Linked DNA regions of Homo sapiens. The gene in region 1 interacts genetically with each later gene. Each region holds a gene or a part of one and is shown on either strand. Other genes may lie near its edges. The genes, in order: CHD8 and GBF1.

Evidence for each region.
Region 2: changes in CHD8 (region 1) and GBF1 together harm fitness more than expected from each alone (negative genetic interaction), as found in Homo sapiens cells (one study listed by BioGRID).

The regions. Positions count from the first base shown.
Region 1 is NC_000014.9:21,400,624-21,404,446, reverse strand, and holds part of CHD8 (chromodomain-helicase-DNA-binding protein 8), read left to right. Parts: intron 1-783; coding exon 784-994; intron 995-1,234; coding exon 1,235-1,430; intron 1,431-1,943; coding exon 1,944-2,111; intron 2,112-2,310; coding exon 2,311-2,490; intron 2,491-2,933; coding exon 2,934-3,044; intron 3,045-3,375; coding exon 3,376-3,572; intron 3,573-3,823. UniProt on the Homo sapiens protein: ATP-dependent chromatin-remodeling factor, it slides nucleosomes along DNA; nucleosome sliding requires ATP. Acts as a transcription repressor by remodeling chromatin structure and recruiting histone H1 to target genes.
Region 2 is NC_000010.11:102,370,709-102,374,531, reverse strand, and holds part of GBF1 (Golgi-specific brefeldin A-resistance guanine nucleotide exchange factor 1), read right to left. Parts: coding exon 3,672-3,823; intron 1-3,671. UniProt on the Homo sapiens protein: Guanine-nucleotide exchange factor (GEF) for members of the Arf family of small GTPases involved in trafficking in the early secretory pathway; its GEF activity initiates the coating of nascent vesicles via the localized generation of activated ARFs through replacement of GDP with GTP.

The DNA.
Region 1 (3,823 bases):
TATGACACATCTGAGGATGATTTAAGTTTTTTTTTTTTTTTTTTTTTTAAGATGGAGTTTCACTATTGTCGCCCAGGCTGGAGTACAGTGGTGCAATCTCGGCTCACTGCAACTCTGCCTCCCAGGTTCAAGCAATTCTCCTGCCTCAGCCTCCCAAGTAGCTGGGATTACAGGCGCCTGCTACCACACCCAGCTAATTTTTTGTATTTTTAGTAGAGACAGGGTTTCGCCACATGGGGCAGGCTGGTCTCGAACTTCTGACCTCAGGTGATCTGCCCGCTTCGGTCTCCCAAAGTGCTGGGATTACAGGCGTGAACCACTGAACCCGGCTGATTTTTTTTTTTTTTTAAGGTGGAGTCTCGCTCTGTCACCCAGGCTGGAGTGCAGTGGCGCAATCTCAGCTCACTGCAACCACCACCTCCCGAATTCAAGCGATTCTCCTGCCTCAGCCTCCTGAGTAGCTGGAACTACAGGCCTCCGCCACCACACCTGGCTAATTTTTGTATTGTTAGTAGAGACGGGGTTTCACCATGTTGGCCAGACTGGTCTCGAACTCCTGACCTCAAGTGATCCACCTGCCTCGGCCTCCCAAAGTGTTGGGATTACAGGCATGAGCCACCGTACCCAGCCGATTTAAGACTTTTTTGTGCTGAAATTCTGTGTGTGAGAAATGTTGGTCTTAAGTCAAATTACATTTTTTTCCTTTTGCTTTCTTAGTTAAATAGACTACAACCTTAATATGGTTCACTGGATCTCAACATAATTTGATTTTTCTTTTGGCAGGTGCTGAAGAAAAAATCCTAACAGAATTCCGTGAAGCTTGCCATATTATACCTCATGACTTTCACCTGCAGGCCATGGTTCGTTCAGCCGGCAAACTGGTTCTTATTGACAAGTTGCTTCCAAAGCTTAAAGCTGGTGGCCATAAAGTTCTGATCTTCTCTCAGATGGTGCGCTGCCTAGACATCCTAGAGGATTATTTAATCCAGAGGAGGTAAGAAAAGAGTCATCCTAGCCTGTGGTTACTCTGTCCTCATAAAGCAGCAAAAAGTAGGAGGGCCTGGATTTAATTAGAGTTCACCAATTGCAATAAGAGAAGTTTTTAAGATTCTCACTCTCAACTTGGGTTTTTGACCAGCTTTGATATGGGAGTACTGGTATTGATCCTAGCCTGCTGTTTTGGTCTCCACTTCTGCTTAGCCACTTACATTTTTTTTCTGCGATTCCCATACAGGTACTTATATGAACGTATTGATGGGCGAGTTAGAGGCAACCTTCGACAGGCTGCCATTGACCGCTTCAGCAAGCCTGACTCAGACCGCTTTGTCTTCTTACTGTGTACCCGGGCTGGTGGACTTGGTATTAATCTTACAGCTGCTGATACCTGCATCATCTTTGATTCAGACTGGAATCCACAAAATGACCTGCAGGTAAAGGAATTCATTGTCTTAGGGACTAACTACCTAACTTGGGAGATTTTTCAACAAGAATAGGATCTTTTAGAAAGACCTTTCACAGAGTTTGGAATTGTTTCCTTAGTTAAGGGTGGCAGTTAGGTCAGGGAATCAGCAAACGTTTTCTGTAAACGACAAGACAGTAAATGTTTTAGGCTTTGTGAGCCATCGAGTCTTTGTTGCAACTGCTTATCTCCAAGTCCTGTAGCGCAAAAACAGCCATAGATAATATGTAAATGAGTGGGTGGTCCCACCTGTGTCCCCATTGAACTTTATTTTTAAAAACAGATGTCCACACAGACTTTAGTTTGCTGACCCCTGGTCTACATGATGGGGTGATAATTTCATCTTGAAATTGACTCTTGGTTTTGAGTTGATCTCATGGCTGCTCTATAGAGGTGAAAGAATCATAAATTGGTATTTTGTATCCTTTCCCTTGCTAATTTTATGATATCTTTCTCCTTTCCTTTCGTTTTTATTTTAAACCAGGCCCAGGCACGATGTCATCGAATTGGGCAGAGCAAAGCTGTGAAGGTGTACCGCCTCATCACTCGTAATTCCTACGAGAGAGAGATGTTTGATAAGGCCAGCCTCAAGTTGGGGTTGGATAAGGCTGTGCTTCAATCCATGAGTGGTCGGGATGGCAACATTACTGGAGTGAGTCCTCTTAGTTTATAGATAAGTTTGTAGTAGATCATTGTGATAGAGGGAAACAAAAGCTATTTGTACACAGGGATTTGACTACCTTGTTTGGATTCTCAATTATTATTTCTTAAAATATAATAGCTAAAATATTATGGCATGGTTAGATATTATTCTCTTGATAGTCTTTTCATCTTTCTATTGGTTTTTACAGATCCAACAGTTCTCTAAGAAGGAGATTGAAGATCTTTTAAGAAAAGGAGCATATGCAGCCATCATGGAGGAAGATGATGAAGGCTCCAAGTTTTGTGAAGAGGACATTGACCAGATCTTGTTAAGACGAACTACAACCATCACCATTGAATCTGAAGGAAAAGGTTCCACCTTTGCTAAGGCATGTTCTGTCTATGCCAGAGGCTAGAAAAACACAGAGACCGGAATCTCTAGGATTTAATTATGTTTTTATGCTGGGGATGGTGGCTCATGCCTATATTCCCAGCACTTTGGGAGGCTGAGGCGGGCAGATCACTTGAGGTCAGGAGTTCGAGACCCAGCCTGCCCAACATGGTGAAACCTCATCTCTACCAAAAATACAAAAATTAGCCAGGAATGGTGGCTTGCGCCTGTCGTCCCAGCTACTCGGGAGGCTGAGGCAGGAGAATCACTTGAACCCAGGGGGTGGAGGTTGCGGTGAGCGGAGATCGTGCCACTGTACCCCAGCCTGGGCAACAGAGCAAGACTGTGTCTCAAAAAAAAAATGTTTTTAAAACATAATTGCTGATTTTGCACCACTTAAAAAAAAAAGTCAGCTTTACCTCTGCATTTGTTTTTCTCTAGGCAAGCTTTGTTGCTTCTGAAAACAGGACAGATATTTCTTTGGATGACCCCAACTTTTGGCAAAAGTGGGCCAAAAAGGCTGACCTAGACATGGATCTGCTCAACAGCAAGGTGAGTTTCTTCTTTTAGGGAGGAAGTATCGCAGAAGACCACACTACTTTCGGGAGTCTTTACAGCTACTCTGATTATTTGATGCTAATTGTGATTTATGATGGTGTATTGTATACAAGGGCTGTTGTGGATACTTTCTACCTAGGAGGCCCCAGAAAAGTAGTTGCTTTCTGAATAATTTTGCTTTCTGTAGATTATTTTACATGTCATTTAAAAAAATCTCTGAGTATCTACACGTTACATCCAATGTTATTGTAATCCCTAATTGTCTTATTCTTTTCCCATGAGCAAATCAGGAAGAGAATTACTTCTCCTTCTGTTCTCTTCATAGAATAATTTGGTAATTGACACACCTAGAGTACGAAAACAAACGCGCCACTTTAGCACTCTGAAAGATGATGACCTGGTGGAATTCTCTGATTTGGAAAGTGAGGATGATGAGCGGCCACGCTCCCGCAGACATGACCGTCATCATGCCTATGGGCGCACTGACTGCTTTCGGGTGGAAAAGCATCTCCTGGTATATGGGTAAGACCCCAACTTACCATTAGAGGTAGTGCATAGTGCATCTCCATCCTGATAGATACTCTTGGTTTGCCTTTCAAATTGGGGGCTATGATCAAAGAAGGGATAATGTGAAAAAATATTTGCCTTGGAGGGAGTTTGTTCTGTTTATTCTGTTACCATGTTTTTTAAGATCTTTGTTTCACACCTTTTCAGAGACATGATTCTGAGGGACAGGGGACTGTCATTTCTCAGAAAAATGTTAATATAGTTTT
Region 2 (3,823 bases), on another chromosome or scaffold:
CTCACAGCAGCCTCAAACTCCTGGGCGCAAGTGATCCTCCTGTCTCAGCCTCCAGAGTAGCTGGAACTACAGGCATGCACCACCATGCCCAGCTCATGTTGCCCTTTTATAACCACACCCACCTCCTCCTTCCTGCCCCCATCCCTAATCCTTAGCAATCTGTCTTCAAATTCTTTTTTTTTTTGAGATGGAGTCTTACTCTGTTGCCCAGGCTAGAGTGCAGGCAGGATCTCAGCTCACTGCAACCTCTGCTTCCCATGTTCAAGTGATTCTCCTGCCTCAGCCTCCCAAGTAGATGGGATTACAGGTGCGAGCCACCACGCCTGGCTAATTTTTGTATTTTTAGTAGAGATGGGGTTTCACCATGTTGGCCAGGCTGGTCTCGAACTCCTGACCTCAAGTGATTCACCAGCCTCAGTTTCCCAAAGTGCTGGGATTACAGGTGTGAGCCACTGCGCCCAGCCTGTCTTCAAATTCTAAAGTTCTGTCATTTCAAAAATGTTATATAAGTGGAATTATATATTACATAACCTTTTTAGATTGGCTTTTCTTTCACTCAGCATAGTTCCCTGGAGATGTCTGTTGCTTTAAATTGCTGAATAGTATTCCATGGTGTGTATGTACCACAGTTTATTCACCTATTGAAAGTCATCTGGGCCGATTCCAGTTTTTGGCTATTACAACTAAGGCTTCTATAAACATTCATGTACAGGTTTTTATGAGAAAGTAAGCTTTCACTTTTCTGGGATAAATGTCCAAGGGTGCAATTGCTGGGTTGTATGGTAATTATATGTTTCATTTTATAAGAAACTGCCAGCAGAGTAGCTGTACCATTTTACATTCCCACCCAGCAATATATGAATGACCCAGTTTCTCCACGTCCTTTCAGCATTTGGTATTGTCACTACTTTTTATTTCAGCCATTCTGAAAAGTGGGTAGTGATGTCTCATTGTGTTTTTATTTTTTGGAGTCTTGCTCTGTCACCCAGGCAGGAGTGCAGTGGCACGATCTCAGCTCACTGCAACCTCCTGCGTTCAAGCGATCCTCCCACCTCAATCTCCTCAGTAGGTGAGACTACAGGTGTGTGTGACCACGCCCAGCTAATTTTTGTATTTATTGGTAGAGACATGGTTTCACCATGTTGGCCAGGCTGGGCTCAAACTCCTGACCTCAGGTGATCCACCCACCTCAGCCTCCCAAAGTGCTGGGCTTACAGGTGTGAGCCTCATTGTGGTTTTAGTTTGCAGTACTCTGATGGTTAATGATGCTATCTTCATTTCATGTGCCTATCTGCCATCTGTATGTGTTCTTTGGTGAAACATCTGTTCCTATGTTTTGTCCATTTTCTATTAATAATTGGATTGTTTTATCACTGTTGTGTTTTGAGAGTTTTTATATTACAGATACCTTTCTTCAAATATGTGATTTGCAAATATTTCCTCCTCGTCTACAGCTTGTCTTTTCATCCTCTTCACATAGGCTCTCATAGAACAAAACTTTTAAAAATATTAATGTAGCCCAACTTATCAATTTTTCCTTTTCTAGATTGTGCTTTTAATGTCAAGTCTAAAAATTATTACTTTTTTTGAAAGAGAGTCTCCCCCGGATCTGTTCCATCCAGACAGTGTTGAGGCAAGAGACAGATCCACAGGACTGCCAAACATGCTAAAAATTCTTTGCTTAGCTCTAGATCCTGAAGATTTTCTCCTGTTTCTAAAGTTTTTATAGCTTTACATTTAAATCTATGATCCATTGGAGTTAATTTTCCTGTAAGGTATGAGGTTTAGGTCAAGGTTCATTTGGTTTTTCCTCCTATGGATTTTAATCACTCCACCACTTATTGAAAAGGCTATTCCTCCTCCACTGAATTGTTCTTACATCTTGGTCAAAAAATCCACTGAACATATTTGTGTTGAGCTTATTTCTGGTCTCTCTATTCTTTTCCATTGATCTACGTGTCTGTCCCTCCATCGACACCACATAATCTTGACTACTATAGCTATACAGTAAGTCTTTTTTTTGAGACAGAGTTTCGCTGTCCAGGCTGGAGTGCAATGGTGTGATCTTGGCTTACTACAACCTCTGCCTCCCAGGTTCAAGTGATTCTCCTGCCTCAGCCTCCTGAGTAGCTGGGATTACAGGCATGCCCCACCATGCCTGGCTAATTCTGTATTTTTAGTAGAGACGAGGTTTCTCCATGTTGGTCAGGCTGGTCTCGAACTCCCAACCTCAGGTGATTGCCTGCCTTGGCCTCACAAAGTGTTGGGATTACAGACGTGAGCCACTGTGTCCAGCCGAGAGTAAGTCTTTTTTTTTTTTTGAGATGGAGTCTCGCTGTGTTGCCCAGGCTGGAGTGCAGTGGCGCAATCTTGGCTCACTGCAACCTCCGCCTCCCAGGTTCAAGCGATTCTCCTGCCTCAGCCTCCCGAGTAGCAATCAGGCGCTCACCATCACGCCCAGCTAATTTTTCTATTTTTAGTAGAGACGGGGTTTCACCACGTTAGTCAGGCTGGTCTTGATCTCCTGACCTCGTGATCCACCCGCCTCAGCCCCCCAAAGTGGACAGTAAGTCTTAATACCAGAGTGATTCTTTTTTTTTTTTTTTGAGACAGAATCTCACTCTGTCACCCAGCTGGAGTGCAGTGGCGCGATCTCAGCTCACTGCAACCTCCGCCTTGAGTTCAAGCGATTCTCCTGCCTCAGCCTCCCAAGTAGCTAGGATTACAGGTGTGTGCCACCACACCCTGCTAATTTTTGTGTTTTTAGTAGAGATGGGGTTTCACCATGTTGGCCAGGCTGGCCTTGAACTCCTGACCTCAAGTGATCTGCCCGCTGTGGCCTCCCGCAGTGCTGAGATTACAGGCATGAACCACAGCAACCGGCCCAGAGAGAGTGATTCTTTCCACTTTATTCTTTCTAGCTATTCTAGAGCTTGTGCCTTTCCATCTAAATTTTAGAATAAGCTTACCTATGTCTACAAGAACCTTTCTGGGATTTTTATAGGAGTTATGTTGAATTTACAGATCAATTTGGGGAGAAGTGACAAAGTTACTATGTTGAGCCTTCCAATCCATGAACATAGTATGCCTCTTCATTTATTTACATCTTCTTCAATTTATTTTGTAGTTTTGTAGTTTTCATCATACAAATCTTATACATGTTTTGTCAGCTATATATTAAGTATTTCACTTTATTTGGAACCCTTGTAAATGGTATTGTATTTTAAATTTCAGTTTCCATATTGTTCATTGTTAGCATGTAGAGATATAATTACTTTTTGTGTATTGATCTCACATCCTGTGACCTTGTTGAATCCACTTATTAGTTCTATGCTTGTTGTTTTTTGTAGTTAAGCAAAGAGATCTCAAGAGGGTCATAAGCATGACAGGAAACCAGGTATAGGGCTGAGACTATTATAAGGCAGTAGCAGGCCAGTCCTACAAAGCAGATTCATAGGAGGCTGAGGTGCCAAACACAAGCTCCATGCCTGAGGCCATTCCAGGCTCACTCCCAGTACCACCCGCTAGACTGCACCAGCCCTGTGGTTGGTCACTGGACTCATGCTATGGGGCACTAAATGTACTCTCTGTCTCAGGCCATATTCATAATTGACAACTGTGGCCTTAATCCCTTGCATACCTGCCCACTCTCCAAGATGCATTCTGCTTACCTGAGCACTGATCTCTTCTCTCCGGAGAAGCCGAATGGCCAGGCGTAGCAACCCCACCACTGCCCGCTCCACAAGGAAGCAGAAATCTTGTGCCTGAACACAGAGGTGGTATAGATGGTCTCGAACAGTCTGCCACACACAGCCCACACGAT